Homo sapiens: one gene and its partners. The protein of the gene in region 3 purifies or fractionates together with the protein of the main gene of each other region. This does not show direct contact. Each region holds a gene or a part of one and is shown on either strand. Other genes may lie near its edges.

Region 1 (8,030 bases), on a different chromosome or scaffold from region 3:
CCTGGCTGTGTTCGTGTGTGATAGTGAGTGATGGTGTGTGCCTGGGACTATGGCCACAGGTATCTGTAGGACATTGTGAGTCTTTCTTGACTACACAGCATTGCGTACTGTGTGTGCTTCCTCTTATGTGATTGTGTGGCTCGCATGCAGCTGCCCCCACAAGCTGGCTTCCAGTGAGGCCCCTCCTGCCACTGAGTCAGTGGCAGGCAATCCTGGGTGAGGAGCCAGGATCCCAGGACCCAGGAGCTCAGGACTGAGCTCTTGTCCCTCCCTACCCTGAAGCCCCAGGCAGGCCTATCCCCAACCGGTTGGACCTAGAGAGGGATAAGACCGGGGGGTGTAGCCAGGGCCCCACCCTGGACACTCTGCCCTCCACCTCCCAGTCTCCAGCAACCCTGCCTCTGCAGGCCCCTCACCAGGCCTCACACACTCTCCGTCTGCGTTCTTTTTTGAGTCAACATGTCTTCTGGAGTCACAGCCCCAGGTCTCAGCAATCATTCTGTTCTATCATGTGGCTCAGGACCATGTTTACACATAGAGATCTCACACATGCACACACACAATTACACCATCACAGGCAAACAAATCGGCACGTGGCCCACTCTTACAAGGCTTCAAAATGCAGATACATACCTATATGGCCCCACCTTCCTACAAACACAGACACTATATAGATTCATTCAGACACAGACACAATCTGCACACAAACACAGAACATATTAATTCAAAAGACACACCCACCGTGTGTTCATATAGTCCCTGTATGTGTTCATTCAAGACCAGACATATCTATGGAAGCCCTGCCAGGAAGGCTTAGCCTGGCTCCAGAGAGGCCAGCAAGGGCCCTTTCAACACCCTCAACAGCTCAGGGATCCCTGAACATCCCCCCTAGGAACACTGGCTGGGCCATCAGCTCTGTCATAACCCAGCTAGACTCCAAGGTGACCCAGAGCAGGCAGGCTGACTGCTGGGGCTCTAACGGGACCTAGTGATGCCTCTTCCAGCTCCAGGCCAAGAGAACAACAGCTCATTCCTGAGATAAGGATCCTGCTGCCATCTGCCAGATCCTGAGGCTGCTCAAGGCAAGCCAGGGATGAGCCAGAACTCGGCTGAGAGCAGAGGCTCCACCCTGGAGAAGCACCGCTGGAAGCACCCACACAGGAAGGACTCTCTCCATGCCATAGGAGCCTGCCAGGCAGGATGGTAAGCATTCAGGGAGAGGGGCTTGGGAAGGAGCGACAGGCTGCAAGAAAAGCACCTCCACCCTGCACCAGGCTGAGAGATTCTTCAATTGTCCCAGACCAGGGAGCCTCACCCAGCTTTTCTATCTCCTTAGAAGTCTTCTCAACCTCCTCCCAAGGGTTCCAGCCTTTCCGCACCCCTCCCTCTCCTTGGGAAGTTGCTCCTAATGTCTCACCTTGATTCCTCTTGCTGTAGCACTAAGGAAGTACTACAGGGAATGTGAGAGGAGAGGCTGGAGAGAGGGAAGAAAGGCAAAGTGGAAGAGAGAGCTGGATGGGAGACTTGAGGAGAGACAGGAATGGAGGAATCACATGGGCTCTCCAAGGAAGAGGACAGTGGTGATTCTTTGCCCCCCAAAAGCACCAGAAACTGGCCATGCTTTACGGGGTGTCATCTCAATAGTGGTGCCTACTCTCTGCTTGCAAATTCTTTCTGAATCTTCAAGGTGCTTCCAGAACTCCTGATCTTCCCTCTGGAGGTAAGGGAGGGGAGAAAAGGCGGCTCCAGCTGAGGGTATTGATGCGTTAATGCAGCCAGTGCTGAGTTGTCCTCACACACCCATTGACACACCACACAGGGGGAAGTCCGGGTCCCCACAGCACAGCTGGAGCCTCCCGAGTGGACTCTGCCAGCCCTGCTCTCATCAGACAGAGAAGGGCTGCAGCTATCCTGCCGGAAATGTCATCATTCCCATGCAGGTGCACGCACCCACACACTCACATACACATTCACGCTCACACAAAGGCTGAAAATGTCACCCCGCCTTCCCAAATTCCTCCTTCATGCCCCTTCATCCCAAATCCAGACTGCAAGAGGGACTCGGAGCCCTTTCCAGTGATGTTGGCATAGAATGCCCCTTGGTGGAACTTGCCCCAACCTGGGCAGGAAGCCACAATGTCCAAACTTGAGCCCTGCCCTGTGGACCTGTCCTGGTGGGGTGAGAAGTCTCTGGAGTTGCCATCCCCACCACCCTCAGGCCTCATCCTAGAGTGGGGCACTGCCCTGTCATAGCACAGGGGGCCCAAGGCTGAGGTCTCAGGCCTGAGCTGTCACTGGCCATGATGGAAGAAACCACTCAGACTTACACCAGACTTAGTCTCTTGCCCTTTCAAGGCAAGTGACTTCCCTGCCCCTTGGCCCTGGCCTTGGGAGAGAAGGAGTAGCGTTGGGAATAGCACACAGTCTGATGAAAATTGATCCTTCCCAAGCTCCTCCTGAGCCCTCACCCAATGCCCGTGCTTACCCCTCTCCTACCCCACCTCCAGCTCCTGCAGAGCAATCAATCCCTCTCCTCCTAGTCACGGCATGAGCTTGCAGGGCACCTGCACACATGTGTGAGCCCGACAGGGGACATATAAAGATCCACTCAAAGACCTCTGCACTACAGACACACACCCTGAACATCAGGCACAGGGTCTCCTGGGGAAAGGTCCCCTGGTAATACCCACACCCGGCTGCAGCAGGGCAAGGGTGGGCAGCACCCTGCCAGGCAACTCAGGCAGCCCCAGGCTCCACTGTGAGCCCTTGCTGCCCCTTTCCTTCCCACCTAGCCTCATGCTGGCTACCCTGCCCCCTGCCCAGCCCCGTACCTGGGCTCAGGCACACGAGTAGAAGGTGGAATGCTCCTCCAACTCTCATGTCTCTAGGCTCGGTGTTTCCTCCGTCTGGGCTGGGTATCCCGTGGGGTCGTAGTGGTGGGTGTGAGGGGGTAGGTGGAGGGAGGGGGAGCTGAGGGCCCAGACACTGCCTGGGGTGGCAGGAAGGTGCAATGAGTGCCCAGCTGGGGAGCAGCTGGAGTTATTTCTATGGGAGGGAGGGGGCCTGGTCCCCGCCTTGGGGAGGAGTCCCAGGAACCCTAATTAGCAGGGTGACAGGGTGGCCTACCTGGGCATTACCCAGCCCTCACCCAAGCTCTTCCCTGTCCTAAGAGTGGCACAGGACAGCCAGCGGGACTTGTAATTAGGCACCTGTTAAACTTCACTTCCTCCTGGCCACATCCTCAGGGTGACAACAGTCACCTCATTTACAGCTTCCAAGGGCTCCCCTCACCACTCATTTGCTGCCTCCTTCCCTGGGGGAAGTGGGGAAGAGGAAGGAGAAGCCAGGCTTGGGAGAAAGAGTGGCCAGGACCTGAAGAGTTAATCCTGATCCCAGGGCATAGGGTTCCCCAGGAGTGTCCAGCCCACCTTCCCCCAGGCTTCAGGCCTTTCAAAGGGACTCAGGCCTCCTGAGCTGAAAGAGGAGAGAAGGGGTGTGTGCAGGAACAGAGTCTCCTCCTGGCTGTCCCCTCTGGAACTGTCCTCCACACCCATACTCGACTCAAGGCCATCCCCAAGTGTAGGGGACCCCTGGGAGCAGGGGTGCTATGGGGGGTCCAGGGTGTGTGCTAGGAGTAAGGTGACTGATGGGCTAGTGAGGGAGTGTTGGAGAGAACAGCGCCAAGAGGACCAGGGAAGGGGGTGCCTGTGTAAGCGTGTGCACCCCTCAGCAATGTCTGTGGGAGGGAGGCAGGATGTCTGTGTCAGGGTGTCTCTGTGAGGATGGCTAAGCCCCTCTGAGTGAACTTCTTGAGGGATCGCTTGGTGTCCTGGCTTCTCTGCCCAGAAAGAGTAGCCAGGTCTTGAGGGTTAATGCAGTCCCAGTATTAACTGGGTCCTTGAGACCAAGGACCCTCATAACCTGGACTGGTCATCGGGCTGACTAAACCAGCACAGTTCTGGGTAAGTTCGTGCTGGGGTGGGGAGGGTCCTGGTAGGCATGGGGAGCAAGTGAAGGGCCACCCCTTGTTGGCTTGTCTAAGGGGGACAGAATGGGCATGTGCCTTGTTGGACTCCATGGTGGGAGTCAGGACATGAGTGACCCCATTCAATAGCTCAACTCCCTCAAAGGAGTCAGGGACTGCCCCCATCCCTACCATGGGGCACAGAAAGGGCAGAGGAGGAAGAGTGTTAGGGAGAGTTATGGGGCTCAGGGATGCTGCCAGGGCCCACCCCTCTGGGGAAAAATAAGTCAGAACATTAAGGAAACACAAGGAGTCCACGCGTCTCTGCATTCCAAGCCGTTGCACCTGAACTCCCAACAATAACAGGGCGCTCTGAGACCTACCAGATGTACACAATGAATATCTTTATTTCCTTATTTATTTTTAGGTTTATGGGATTGTCCTGCTCCCTTTGAAGAGCAGGGATCATTATCCCCATTTTACAGATGGGGAAACAGAGACCTGGAGAAACATGGGGATTCAGCCAATGCGGCTGGTGCCTAAGCTGGGATACCCAGGTACCCAGGGTGTCAGTCCAGAGAGGTCCAAAAAATGGTCTTGGTGATCCTGTGGATTACTAGACCCACTCACGAACAAGAACCATGGAAGGTCAGGGTGAGTGGGAGGGAAAACAGGTCAGACCACGAACAGAGAGATTGAGGAGAAAGCAGTAACATTGTGGTTCCACTAAACTACAGTGCAGGCTTCAGATTTAATTGGGTTCTGGATGTGGGCTAATGTTAGAGCTGGGGTTAAGTTTGGGGTTAGTTGAATTATGAATGAGGTTGAGGTCAGATTTGAGGTTGGGATTAGAGTTAAGGTTGGGATTAGGGTTAGAAATACAGCTAGAATTGAGGCTCAGGTTTATGGCTGGGATTTGTGTTACGATAAGGAATAGAGTTTTAGTTTCATTTACAGCTCTGCCTGGGAATACAGTTAGGGCTAAATCAAAGGCTGGGTTTAGATTGATTTAGCATTGGGTTAGAACTAAGTTTGAGATTCACATTGAAATAGGCTGTGGTTAGGGTTGGAACATGGTTTAAAGACACGTAAGCAGCGGGAGTTGATGGGGATCAAAGATGAGGTTTTATTTCTAATATAGAAAGACTTCAGCCTCCATCTGCTAAATCCAGGTTTGGCTAGAATTTTCAATCCTTAGTGCGGGGAGACTACTAATGGCACATGTTGATTGGGGTCCCAAGACTTGGAGGAGGAAGCCAAATGTACACGAGCCCATCTAAGGGGTATGAGGCAACTAAATCCCATAGAGAATGGACCCTCTGAAGTCCTGCTCCACTACTAAAGCTCACCACCTGGCCAAGCTCCAGAAAAACATCTGGGGAGGAGACGCAGGAAGCTACTGACAATGAGTTGGGCTCTGACACCAAACCGAACTAGAAGATGGGGTCCATCAGAGGGAGTCTTACTGAGTGGGGAGGAGGGGTGGTCTGGATTTGGAGTCCTTAGGAGATGGGAGTTGGGAGAAACTGAGGGCCTACATGCTCCTAGAACAGCCACTTTATGGGGCACCACATGGGGGTCTTTCAAAGCCTGAAAGGGCAGAGTGCCATTGTTGTTTCCCCTTGACCCTCTGAGGCTTAATTGCTACCTTCTTGCAATTTGAGTCCTATAAAAGAAGCTGTCAGCCTTCCAGCCCTAAACCCTGAGCCCTGCAGGGTTTTCAGGGAGGGCAGCAGTGGGGAGGCTGTGGATGGGGTGAAGGCACTGGGGTGTCAGCATAGTTTCCAAAGCATATGTCACAGTCCTACAGTCCCCTCCCTCTGGGCCCAGCTCACAGTCCGTGTAAGTCTCTGGGCCTTATCCTCAGCAGTGGAAGAGGGCCCCACTCCTAGGAAGACCCCGTCCCAATTCCTCCCTCTCATTTTTCCCCAACCAGTCTCCAGCCCAAACATCTCATTTCCCCACCCACTTCCTTTTCAGGTTTTATAAAGGTCTGGTCCAGGAGACTACTGGGGTTCCCCCTGTGACCCCAGAGAGAGAGAAGAAAGAGATTGGGAGAGATAGTGATGAGTTAAGGGGCAAAGACAGAGACAGGGACAGAGGCAGACAGAAAGACACATGGTCTAAATGGCCCCTCCAGAGACTCAGAGGGATACAGAGGAGGCAGAGGGCCCAGGCCACGAGCTGGGAACCAATACAAATTTCCAAAAGGGCCCCTTGCTTTTTCCTAAGAAATCCATGACTCTCCAGGGAAGAATGGCCCTGCTTTGACTGGTATTTGCTTCTATTCTAAGACAGTAACAGAAAATCAAAGACTGGCTTAGAAAGGAGTAAACAGGGAGATACAGGAGGTAGGAAGAGGCTGGACAAAAACTCAGAGAAGGCCACAGATTGCTTACCAGATGAAGTGCAGCCCAGCCCCAGAACCTTTCTGGGAAGGACGGACAGAGGGCTTGGGCTGCCTACTCTTCCTCCAAAGCCTATTCTTCCTCCAAAGTCCCTTTCATGGCAACTCCACCCCACTCCTCTAAGCCCTGCCCTCCCCTGCCTGTACTTGCCCACCCCAACCCCTCTCAGTGGCCGCCAGACTCCCTGGGCTCAGGCTCAATCAAGCTCCCCACAACCCCTGCCTTGGCTGGCACTGCAATTTGACTCATTCTAAACTCCTCCCCACACAGTCAGCAAGCTCCTCAGCCCCCTCTCCCAAGTCCCCATGTAGCCCAGGGCTCACCCTGCAGCACCCAGGGAGGAGCTGTCCTGCAGAGGAAACCTCTGAGGTAAGACTCTGGGAGCAGAAGCTGTGAGTGACAATGGATAGGCAAAGAGTCACAGAGAAGCCAAGGAGCCTTGCAGCTGCTGTCTGTCCACCCAGCTTTCAGTGATGATTTGGAGGTGGAGGTCTGCCAGGTGAGGCCATGGTTGCATGAGAAGGGCAGGGGGCTCAGAGGTTGCATGGGTGGTGATGGGACAACGTCGGATTCTGGTTACAGAGAGGGATGAGATCGACATGTGGGGCTAAGTTTGAGGGTGTGGGTTGGGTTCGAAACTAAGGCTCAAATCAAAGCTGGCAGGGAAGAGCCGTGAACACAGGTGACACAGGGACTCCCCAAGCTCCTGCTTAGGTTTCCCAAACCTCAGTGGTTCTGACTGGTACACTTCAGAAGAAGTGGGATTCTAGGAGGAGCCTGGATATGCCCACATCTCTCCCATCAAGCAATGTCCTGAAGCTGACAGACTCAGAAGAGCAAGCAGCACACACATAGTCCCCATCAATTAAAGGAGTGGCTGGAGTTGTCACTACATCAACAAAGCACAAGAGCAAAGGGAGGCGATTGAATGCCACCAACTGAATTGTTAGCAAGAGAATGAGTGGAGGCGAGAAGAAATCGCTTGTAAAGGCTATGTGATTCCCTGATGACAGATCTGAGGAAGAATGAAGAGGCTTTGAAGATAAAGGTATCTTCACCTCGCCAAGATCAACCACATCCTGCAGAACCTTCATTCATTCAGCAAACAGCCAGGCTTTGTGCTAGGCCCTGGGGAAATGGCAATTAAGGAGACTCAGTCCCTATCCTCACAGAACACCCCATCTGACACGGAAATAGCTCCTGGCCCGCAATGTGGTAAGATGCAGTAATACGTGCAAGGCCCCTGACTTAGTGGCAATGATGTTTAAGCCGAGATCTGAAGGATAACTAACAACGGCGTGCCAGAGAAAAGAGTAGCGGGTGGAGAGAGGAGGCCAGGGGAATATTTCTGGGCTTGGTAAGTAAGCCAGGTCCCTGCCAGACATGGACTGAGAAGAGCAAAGCCAGGAGTGACAGCTGACGATTATTTTTTAACTGAGGAAGGAAGATCCTTGAGAACGGAACCTCTTGGGACCTTCTACCCAGAACACCAGAGCACCTCACTGGGATCAGAGCCAGGCCATCGGGTGGATTAAGCAACTAAAATTGATTGTCCTGAACCATGAGTCTGTCTGTTTATGGGGAGAGAAACTTTGAGATGAATTAATCCACAGGTCCAATGGGACTTTGACATTTTAATTTGTAGAAATAAAACTTGC
Region 2 (7,745 bases), on a different chromosome or scaffold from region 3:
ACTTCTCAAGTGACTCTAGGGATTACATTTCAACTCCCTTCTTACACAAATTAAGGAAAGTGATATTCAGAGAGATTATATGACATGTTCAAGATTACACAGCAAGTTGGGCAGAGCAAGCATTAGAAGTTAGGTCTCTGGATTTCTATTTCAGGTTCTTTCCATTCATGGTGGAATTCTGAGCACCTGGCTCTCCTGGTCCTTTAAATATCAGACATTTGCCCAAGTGTGAATATCCAAAACAACAGACTGTCCTCAGAAAGGCAGCCTATTCACCCTCCAGGAGGCTGAGAGAGGGGCATGATTACATCATCCACGATGGCTCCTTCCTGCTCCTGGGGAAATGGCACAACACAGAGTACACACACTGAACTCCACTTATGTCCCAGTCACAGCATCTTCACATACACCCAGGATGGATATCTTGTGGTCCACAAGCAATGTCAGCCACCTACGACAGCCCTACCTTTTTAGGAACTTGTCTGAGCCACCTACCACAACTACTAGCACTGATGGGATCACTGATAAAAACCAGTATTCTGATGGGATCACTGATAAAAGCCAACGTCCACTGCATACTCACCTGGATTTCCCTTCCAAGAGGTAGCAGTCTGTCTGACACAAACTCTGTCCCTTCGCATACCAGAAAGAAATGTTTGGGGACCTTGGCGTTCTAGGTATGACACCTTAGCATGCCAGCTGCTTCTAAGAACAAACGCACTATCATATGGGACCATGCATTTTGAAACCATCTCACTCAAATCTGATGCCAAACCAACTGTTTTCATCATGCCTATTTTCTTTTTCACCATAGCAATTTTTATATGTTTTATTGTACTTTCATCAAAGCACCATCTTCTGGTTGAAATGATCAACAGAGACCCCAACTTCTTCCAGCACCCCACTTTGTGAAAACAGCATTGTAGTACTTGAGTATTTATGATTCTTTGAGGTTTTGAATTAACCCAGATAACTTGTTTGGTCACTGACCACCAGTGATCCCTTTCAATATGCTTCTAGGAAGAGTGACAAAAGAGACTAAACATGCCTTTGGCAAAAATTAGGACTTTCTAGAAAGTTCTTATTACTGTGATCCTTGGCTTCCCTCAAAGTTGTTTTAATTCACTGGAGAAGGATCACCTTTACCAAGAAACAGATTGTGTGGTGAAAAGAAATATGGGCTGTGGAACCAAAGCAATGAGTTTGGTGCTACCACTTACTTATAAACTCCGGCAAGTATTTAACCTCAGAGCCTTGGTTCCTGGTTCATAAAATGAGAATAATAATATCTGCAAGCAGTAATGAATTGAAAAATCCCTCATAGAATTTTTGGGTCAGAATAAATGCCCATACACAGCTATAGTGACGTGGGCATTTTAGGAAGAAGAATTTCTGTGGGTGTTAATCTTATGGAAAGGCAATCCAGTATCACATTTAGCTTAAACGCTATATTCATTACACTCAGTGTACACACTTTCAACATTCTTATCCCCAGTAGCTGCTCACATTGACTGTTTCCTACTGAGCCCTCTCTGAGAATAGCAGAGCTCTATTTGTAGAGAAGGCTCCTGGCATTTTTGGTACCCTTTCAATCCCATAGCTATTCATCACAGTAAAGACACTACCACCAATGGTCAGCAGATGTGGGATTGAAAGCAATCAAGAGTTTCCTTTGGAAATAGCCCTGCAGACATTACATTTCCAGGTACAAAGCTTAAGGAAAAGTCTGCCTTGGCAGCTTGTCTGGCACAGGCTTCATCTTTGGTAAACAAAACATGACTATACCACCTTTGTTTTGTTAGAAAACTTGGAAGCTGTATTTCCAAGCCAACTGGATCTTTGGTCTTTCCTCAAAGACAAGGGGCCCTGGCTCTTAAAGACTTGCTGGTAGGCCCTGTGCTGTTCCTGAATTTTATCAACTAAACTCATCTTTAGGAAATGGAACATGGATGCAGAATGCAACTGGTTCTGCCTGTCAGAAAAGAAGCAAGCATTCAAATATCCAACAGAGGTTGCCAAAACATCTGAAAAGATGTTCTAATAACCACAAAGTTGAAAATAGCATGACATCTTCTGGAGTCAGGAGGTGACTTCAGAGGGAGATCCATGAAACAAATTAGATGGTTAAGATACTAGGCCCTGGAGGGGGCAGGGAGAAAGGGTTATTTTCTGCCCCAAATTAAAAATCAGGAACATAGAACACCGTGGCGCCATCTCACCTAGCTATGCTATAGGTTCTGGGATAAGATATTGCCCTCAGCAAGAATGACTTGGAGCTGGAATAAACTTTTTACCAGTGAAAGCGCTAATTCTAAGTAGACTCAAGGAAACCCTGAAAATAGCAGGCAAATCTCCTGTGACTTCCCCCTCTTTTAAACGTTGAAAAACATGACTTAGCATACTTATCTCCCATTATGATGTTTCATTCCAGAAATACAAACTAAGAAAACACTGTGTTTTAACCATAAGGAATTCTTGAAATTTCTCAAATCTTCATCCCAAGTGTTGTCATTTAAAAACAAACAAACAAACAGAATCCCCCAGAAGTTACTAGTAGTACCTGGTGGAAATTGTCAAACACCTGGTTGTGTATATGTCCCTTCACAGGCAAGGCTATTAATAGGTGGCTCAACAAATACATGGAGCTATGAATATCTCTTCCAGATTACACACCCATCCATACTAGGGCTCTTCAAGCAAAAAACAAAACACCTTCTCTTGGTCTAGATCAACTCACCCCCATTGTAAGTACCCAAGAAATACAACCTTCCCCACACAAAGTCAAAAAGAGGCCAAACCTGGGAGTCAATGAGGACCCTAAGTTCACTCACTTGTCTTCTGTGAAACTTTTCCCAGTAATAACATTCTTCCCTTGGGGTACATAGTTCCAGTATTCTTCCACAATCCCAATGTAGTACGTTCTGGTAACTGTGCCAACCAGCCCAGACAGACCCAGGAATGTGAGGAGAAAGATGCAGCCAGCTGGCTGCTTCCGAGGCATTTGTGGATGTAACTCAAGCAGGCAGGCAGCCTGCACAGGGGACAAATCTGTTGGTCCCTCCCCCTCACTCAGCTCCTCCTCCTCAGGTAGCTTGGGTTTGGGGAAGAGGCAAAGGCTGAGGCCTTGCGTAAGCAAAGCAAGCTCGATGGGGGCGTTGCTTTGACAACAAAACTTTTGCCAGCCATCCGAGAAATGTGTGACTGGCTCATTTATGTATTGCCCAAGCCAACAGGCCTGTTTCTATACGTTTCGGTACCATGCTCTGACATCAGTCATTTGTCAGCCAGGATGACAGTGTGACTACTTGAGCCGATGGCTTTCCCCCACCCCTTCTTCTTCTTTTCTTCTCCACACCTCTTACATTAAAATCTGAAAAGTGAGCTGGCCTGAGTGGAGCATCAGGAAACACTCCAGGCACTAAAGAAGGCCTCCTCTCTGTCGGGAGGGCAGAGGAAGTGACATAATCACCATCCAGCTTGTTTTATGAGGCTATGTGAAACCACAAACTAACATCATAAAGTTCATCACAACAACATAAAACCCCACTAATCCTCCACTGGCTCGTGTACCATCTCCCCCATATTCTCTCAAATCCTTCCAGCAAAAATGAGAAGGTTGACTGCTCAGTTCAGCCAAAATGTTCGCGGCCACCACCTCCACACAGGGAGCCGCCTTTCTTAGGATGAATGAAAATGATGATGGGGAAGTACCCTTCAGACACATGGAGACAAAATTCAGTAACAGGTCTTTGGGTGGAAAAGGCTGGGCCATTCTTCTGTGTCTTCTAATCTGTGTCCCAGAATCTCGGTATTGAAAGAGACCTTGATCAACCTTGGAAAAGAGTTACTCTTATCCCCATGCACAGTTACTCTTGAGGGAGCAGCCATGGAATGAAGGAAACAGCCTCCTGGCCTTTGAAGTTGGTCAGACCTGGGTTTGAATGTGAGTTCCCACCACTTTCCAATTTAGTGGCATGGAGGAATCACTTAACATCATTGAGCTGGAGACTATAGAAGAAGGATTGAGGGATTCTTAAGGAACTTTTTAAAAGATGATGTCTGCAAAGTGCTTACCCCAGCCCCTAGCATAGGGTAGGTACTAAGTAAGTGTTAAAGTCCTTCCTGCCCATTCATGCCCTCTAAGAGAGACTGTATCAACCTGTGTATCCACAGACTTGTGTTTCCCCGCAGTCTTCAACTTTCTTTCCACTATTCTTTGCCAAAGTCCTATCTGCCATGCCTTCCACCAGTCTCAAGTAAGAGAATTCTTTTTCTTTAAATGGTAGCTACCCTATAAATGTCCCATAGCACAGTTTGTATTAGCATTCATCTTAATTAATAAAAGGCCAGGCACGGTGGCTCAGGTCTGTAATCCCAGCAATTTGGGAGGCCAAGGCAGTCAGATCACCTGTGGTCACGAGTTTGAGACCAGCCTGGCCAACATGGTGAAACCCTGTCTGTACTAAAAATACAAAAATTAGCCGGGCGTAGTGGCAGGCGCCTGTAATCCCAGTTACTTGGGAGGCTTAGGCAGAAGAATCGCTTGAACCTGGGAGGTGGAGGTTGCAGTGAGCCAAGATTGTGCCACTGCACTCCAGCCTGGGCAACAAGAGCAAGATTCCTTCTCAAAATAAGTAAATAAATAAATAAATAAATAATAAAATACATACTGAGTATCCTGTTTCATAGCCAGGCTCTTTACAACTTTGATTTACTGATTTGTTTGTTGTATCAAGGACACTGGTAGAATAATTGCCACAGCACATTTCCATTTAGCTAAAATCTCCTCTTCAACATGAGTTTGGGAGCTTCGTATGAGTCTGGCACTTCAACGGACACTATAGAGGAGGACTTACGTGGTAGGCCTGAGGTTGGCCTCAGAAGAAGTAGGGAGTTCAAAGTATGGGGAATCTGGCCAGGCGCAGTGGCTAATGCCTATAATCTCAGCACTTTGGGAGGCCGAGGTGGGTGGATCACCTGAGGTCAGGAGTTCGAGACCAGCCTGCCGAATATGGTGAAACCCTGTCTCTACTAAAAATACAAAAATAACCCGGGCATGTTGGTGCATGCCTGTAGTCCCAGCTACTAGGGAGGCTGGGGCAGGAGAATCTCTTGAACCCTGGAGGCAAAGGTTGCAGTGAGCCAAGATCTCACAACTGCACTCTAGCCTGGATGATAGAGCGAGACTCTGTCTCACAAAAAAAAAAAAAAAAAAAAAAAAAAAAAAAAAAAAGGTTGTGGAATTTGGAAATGTCCCAAACCAAATATCTTGTTGCTTACATCCCAGAGAAGCTGGCTATTTTGGGCGTATCAAAGACGTTATTAGGACATATTCCCCCCTTTTTGGACAGGAGAAAAAAAAAGGTATAAGTGATACAGCTCAAAAAGACAAAAGAGTTAACTTTCTTACCCAAGATACTGAACGCATATAATTAAAACCCAGGAGAAGGCATTACCTAACTTCTGATTCAAAAACTAGATCTGCAGAATAGATCAGGTCAAGAAATCTGAGTCACTATAGCAGATGAAGTCAACGCATTTAATCTATTTGTAGCAGAGAACTTGCTTACAGAGGGCCAAAAGTGGGAAAGAATTTATTAAAAACAATGAAATAGGGTTCTGGAAAGCTCTCTTAAATTCTTCCTTATCCTAGGACAATAAAGGTGTTACTCAAAGAGCATTGGAATGCCATAGGAGCTAAAGAAAATAAACTGGTATGAGACAATGCAGTGTTCCTGTGACACTCATTTCAGAAAAGCGACAGTTCCACGCCCAATGTGTTTGACAGTGTCTAAATTTTATTAGGAAACCTGTGAATTATCATATCAACACTCATTTTTAAAAACCCACAGTTACATACAAGATATGTTTGACAATGTTTAAAATTTGATTAAGTAACCTGTGTAAGTAATAATGTTAGCAAATACTTCCAACTCCATTGAACACTAGTCAGACATTTTTTTAAAGTCAAGAAACCCATTTATCAAGCATTTATTATGTGAGATGGCCAGTTCTAAATATTCACTCCATTCCTCAAAACATTCACCAGGTTTCAGATAAGGTAAATTTGACATCATGCATCAATAGCAGAGAAAGATAATGCTGGGTTAAATCACATTTTATTGAAATTATGGTACAGGCACACCTTGAAGATATTGCAGGTGTGGTTCCAGACCACCATGATAAAGTGAATATCAAAATAAAGCGAATCACATGGATTTTTTGGTTTTCCAGTGCGTATAAAACTTATGCTTAGGCCATGTACAGTGGCTCACACCTGTAATCCCAGCACTTTGGGAGGCCAAGGTGAGAGGATCACTTGAGGCCAGAAGTTTGAGACCAGCCTGGGCAACATGGCAAAACTTGTCACCATAAAAAATACAAAAAAATTAGCCAAGCATGGTGGGGTGCACCTATAGTCCCCGCTACTCAGGAGGCTGAGGTGGGGGGATCATTTGAGCCCAAGAGGTCGAGGCTGTAGTATGTTAAGATCATGCCACTGCACTCCAGCCTCACTGACAGAAGGAGACCCTATCTAAAAAAAAAAAAAAGTTATGTTTACACAATATTACAGTCTATAAGTGTGTGTGCAATTGCATTATGTCTAAAAAATGTACACACCTTAATTTAAAAATACCTTATTGTTTAAAAATGCTAACAATCACCTGAGTCTTCAGTGAGTCAGTCTTTTTGCTGTGGAGGGTCTTGCCTCAATGTGGATGGCTGCTGACTAATCAGGATGGTGGTCACTGAAGGTTGAGGTGGCTGTGGCAACTTCTTAAAATAAGAACAATAGTTTGACACATCATTTGGTTTCCTTTCATGAAAGATTACTCTATAACCCATGATGCTGTTTAATAGTATTTTACCAATAAAAGAACTTCTTTCAAAATTGGAATAAATTTTCCCAACCCTGCTCCTGCTTTATCAACTAAGTTTATGTAATATGCTGAATCCTTTGTTGTCATTTCTACAATATTCACAGCATCTTCACCAGTAAATTCCATTTCAAGAAACCACTTGCTTTGTTCATCCATAAGAAGCAACACCTTATTCATGTAAATTTTATTATGAGATTGCAACAATTCAGTCACATCTTCAGGCTCCACTTCTAATTGTAGTTCACTTGCTGCTTCCACCACATCTGCAGTTACTTCCTCCATTGAAGTCTTGAACCTCTCAAAGTCATCCATGAGGGTTTGAATCAGCTTCTTCCAAACTCCTGTCAATGTTGATATTTTGACCTTCTCTCATGAATCACAAATATTCTTAACAGCATTTAGAATGGTGAATTATTTCCAGAAGGTTTTCAATTTACTTTGCCCAGATTCATCAGAGGAATCACTATCTATGGCACCTATAGCCTCAAGAAAGGTATTTCTCAAGTAATAAGATTGAAATTCAGTTACTCCTTGATCTATGACATACGGAATGGATGTTGTGTTAGCAGACATGAAAACAACATTCATTTCATTATACATTTCCGTCAGAGCTCTTGGGTCACTAGGTGCGTTGTTAATGAGCAGTAATATTTTGAAAGAATTTTTTTTTCTTAGCAGTAAGTCTCAGCCCTGGACTTAAAATATTCAGTAAACCATGCTGCAAACAGATGTACTGTTGTCCAGACATTATTATTCCATCTAGGGAGTATAGACAGAGTAGACTGTGCATAATTCTTAAGGGTCCTGGGACATTTGGAATGGTAAATGAGCACTGGCTTCAACTTAAAGTCACCAGCTGCATTA
Region 3 (3,471 bases):
CCTGGCCCCCTTGAGAGAGGGCTTGTTGGTGAGGGCTGACTCCTGGGGGCCCCCAAGGCTCCCCTCCTGTGGGGAGGCCACCTTTTAAGGCACCACTAGCAGTCAGGATATGGTGGCATCAGCCCTGGGGCCTCCTGGGTGGCAGGGGGGCAGCAGCTCTCCTCCCCACTCACAGGCCCTGCAGTGCTCATTTGGAATTCCTCCCAAGACCCCTGGCCACCCAGACCCCCCATTCTTCCTAACACTGGCAATAAACCCTCAACTGTGACCCACCGTGGCCTGAAGCTGCCTCTGTGTCAGGGTCCCCAAGGAAGGGGCTGGGGGTGGACACACCAAACCAGCTCTTCTTTGGGGATTCAATGGCCCCCTCCTCGACTGCATCAGACTTCCTTTGTGACCTGGGCCAAGTCCCTGCCCTCTCTGTGCTGTTTACTTGTCGGCAAAGTAGTGGCTGTGACAGCATGTGACTGGGGCCAATTATCCATTCAGACACAGCTGACACCTACTTTGTTCTGGGAACTTTAATACTGTGACAAAGTTCTCTAAAATAGGCACCTTCCCCACCGTACCTCATCGCCCAGGGCAGGCAGGCAGGGCAGGCTAGATCTCGTACCGATACTTGAGCACGCCTCCTCCTGGTGCAGAAAGAAACCTCTTCTGTACCGAAATACAAGCAGCAGCTGTGGCCTGGGCCACCAGGTGGAGCATGGGGAACACTCTGGGCCCTGGGAGGACGAAGCCAGTGCCACTAGGAGCAGACTGGCTGGGGACGGTTGTCCACACAGACTCTGGCCCCATCTGGGTGGGCTTGCAGCAGGCGTCCTGGGCCAGAGGAGGGGCCCTGGCATCTATCCAACACCAGGACCTCTCTTTAGGCCTAGGCCAAACTCTTCAGAAGTCACGACACACAGATGTGGGCCCCGGTCACGCCTCATGAGCTGTCTCTGGGAAGAAAATCTCCCGGCATCGCTGCACCGTGTCCTGAGGAGACACCACGCTGTGGCCAACAGTCCGGGGGTCGGCAAAGATCTCAAAGTCGTTCCCACCCTGCACACAGAGGATGGGCAGAGGAGGGATATTTAGGTGGAGTCCCTCTCCACATTGGCTGCTACGGACCTGCCCCTCCTCCTGCCCCTTCAGAACTGCCAGGAAGCCCACCTTCTCACCCCTTGTCAGACCTGCCCTGACTTGCTGTGTGATGTAGAACAAGTGCCCAGCCTCTTGGGGCCCCAGCTTTCCAATCTGTGTAACGGGGCTGGTGAGCAATGGTTGTTCTCCAGGAGCCCCCTAAGAGGTCTGTTGTGTTGCCCCATGTTCTGGCCTTGACCTCAGGTGATTTGCATTGGAGAAGCCACCAGACCTGGCTTCTCACTGTCCACTGCGTTAGGGGAAACCTGGGGTGGGCCACACTCACAGGGCTAGTCTCGTTCCCAAAGAAGTGGATGGTGTCGAAGCTGTCCTGGTCCAGGCTATCCAGGCAGTAGCGCTTGTCCCAGCCCTCGGGGAAGACGTCAAAGCTGATCATGCCTCCTGTGGGCAGGGGTGGGGACTGTTATTCCCTGCTGGGAGGGGCAGACAAGGCTAACAGAAGGGCTGCTTGTTCATTCATTCATTCAACAACCCTTGAGTGCCTACTGAGGGCCAGGAATAGGACACGGGACAGACTTAGGATCCTCAAGGAAGTTATGACACAGGTTGGAGAATGAACAAGACCATGAAGTGGGTGGGGGAAGCTCATCCGGCCAGGGTGATCAGGGGAGACCTCTGAGGAGGTGGCAATGAGCTGGGACCTGAGCCGAGTGGGGATGGCTGGGGCGCAAAGTACAGCCCCTGAGGCAGGGAAGAGAACGAGCGTCCCAGCAACGGAGGAGGCCAGGAGAGGTAGGGGGAGGACGGGCAGGCCCTGGGCATCACATGGAGAGGGAGGAAGAGCCTGGGGAGGACTTTGGGCAGAGGCATGTCATGACTCCAGCTCCAGCCTCTCTGGCCACTGGGGAATGGGTGAGGTGGCAGAGGGGAGCCCAGTTGTGTCAGGGTCAGTTGGAGCCTGGGACAAGCTGCTGGCAGTGGAAGTGTGAGCACCGGTGGGATTCCAGACAGGGGGCCCTGTGACTTCTAGGAGTTTGGACTTGGGAAGGGGTGGGGGAGAGCATTCAAGGGAGAGGCTCTGGTTTTTTGGCCTGAGAAACTGGGTGGGCATGGGGCGTTTACCTCTGAGGTATGAGGTGGGGAAAACTGGGGGCCAGTAAACACTGAACCCCTTTCTGCATCGGGCTCAGCCACCCTCTCTGCCCTGAGCCGGGGAGGGGCTACTAAAGCTACTGGGGGCCACAGCCTGGTCTTGGCAGGGGCAGATGGTTTGAGGAGGGGCCCTGTACCAGGCCTCCCAGGTCCTCTGCAGGGTGGACGTACCTCGAGAGAACCTCAGCCCTTTGCCAGCAAACTCTGTTTTCAGGGCTTCCACGAACTTCTCCCGGATCTTCTCTTTCTGCAGAGGGGAGGGAGCGGATGGCAGCTCAGAGGACCTGCTGTGTGCCAGGCCCTGGCTGGGCACACAGTCCACGTGAGCGTGCTGAGCATTCTAGGTGGGTAGGACCCCCAACTGTGCAGATGCGCAAACTAAGGCTCAGAGAGGGGTTGTGCCTTGGTCAAGGTCACCTAGCCCTGGTGGCAGAGCCAGGGCCTAAATCCAGAAGGGATGGGGCTGCCAATGGGGCTGTGGGCTGGGTCTTCTGAAGGAGACCTCAGAGGAGAGACACGAGTAGGAAGGGCGAGGAGACGGGGCAATCTGGATCCCACATCAGTGTCCACCTCAGGGCAGGGCTCGATCCTGTTATCTGTAACCAGCTCAACAAAGCAAATACTCAGAAATGAGCATGGGAGCTGAGAGCAGGAGACCTGTGAGGAGGTGGCTGTGGGCATTCACAGAGGGCAGCAGGATGCCAGGCATGGCAGAGCACCCAGCATGCAAAGACGCGGCTGGGCTGGGGACTAGGTAGTGCCCAGGCCGGCCCCGTCCCTCTGAGCAGGAACTCTGGCAGCAGCTCCGCAAACGTGGAGCAGGGGGACATTCTCCCCGCCAGCCCCCAGGATCTCCATCTCAGAGGGCCACAAAGGGGAGCAGCTATGCCCAGTCTGAGGGGCAGCTGAACATCTAAACCAGCCAGCAGGACATTCAGCTGACAGAGGGTCTCGAGACCGGGCTGGGAAGTCTGACCACATCCTGGGGGACCAAGAGGCGCTGAGGATTCTGGAGCACAGGAGTGGGGTGGCTGGTATGGCCCTGTAGTCAGAGCCGGGTAGGACTGGGGCGGAAAGGCAGGCAGTGGTCAGCAGCATGGAGCTTGGAGAAGTGGCCCAGGGAGGATGTCAGATATAAAGCCAGACACCCCCTAGCCTGAGATCTGAAGGCAAGTAGCCAGGCTTGGCTACTGTACTCCTCAGCTGTGTGACCATGGGCAAGTCACCTGA

The links. The genes of interacting proteins can lie anywhere in the genome.
Region 1: the proteins of PMM1 (region 3) and VSIG8 purify together in Homo sapiens (affinity purification with mass spectrometry; 3 studies listed by BioGRID and IntAct, with this or other methods). This does not show direct contact.
Region 2: the proteins of PMM1 (region 3) and HEPHL1 purify together in Homo sapiens (affinity purification with mass spectrometry; 3 studies listed by BioGRID and IntAct, with this or other methods). This does not show direct contact.

Annotation. Positions count from the first base shown.
Region 1 is NC_000001.11:159,859,642-159,867,671, forward strand, and holds the start of VSIG8 (V-set and immunoglobulin domain-containing protein 8 precursor), read right to left. Parts: upstream 3,017-8,030; 5' UTR 2,881-3,016; coding exon 2,832-2,880; exon of another isoform or gene 1,005-2,831; intron 1-1,004.
Region 2 is NC_000011.10:94,016,625-94,024,369, reverse strand, and holds the start of HEPHL1 (ferroxidase HEPHL1 precursor), read right to left. Parts: upstream 3,017-7,745; 5' UTR 3,002-3,016; coding exon 2,832-3,001; intron 1-2,831. UniProt on the Homo sapiens protein: Is a copper-binding glycoprotein with ferroxidase activity. It oxidizes Fe(2+) to Fe(3+) without releasing radical oxygen species. May be involved in the regulation of intracellular iron content.
Region 3 is NC_000022.11:41,576,394-41,579,864, forward strand, and holds the end of PMM1 (phosphomannomutase 1), read right to left. Parts: intron 2,489-3,471; coding exon 2,413-2,488; intron 1,531-2,412; coding exon 1,415-1,530; intron 1,048-1,414; coding exon 925-1,047; 3' UTR 507-924; downstream 1-506. UniProt on the Homo sapiens protein: Involved in the synthesis of the GDP-mannose and dolichol-phosphate-mannose required for a number of critical mannosyl transfer reactions. In addition, may be responsible for the degradation of glucose-1,6-bisphosphate in ischemic brain.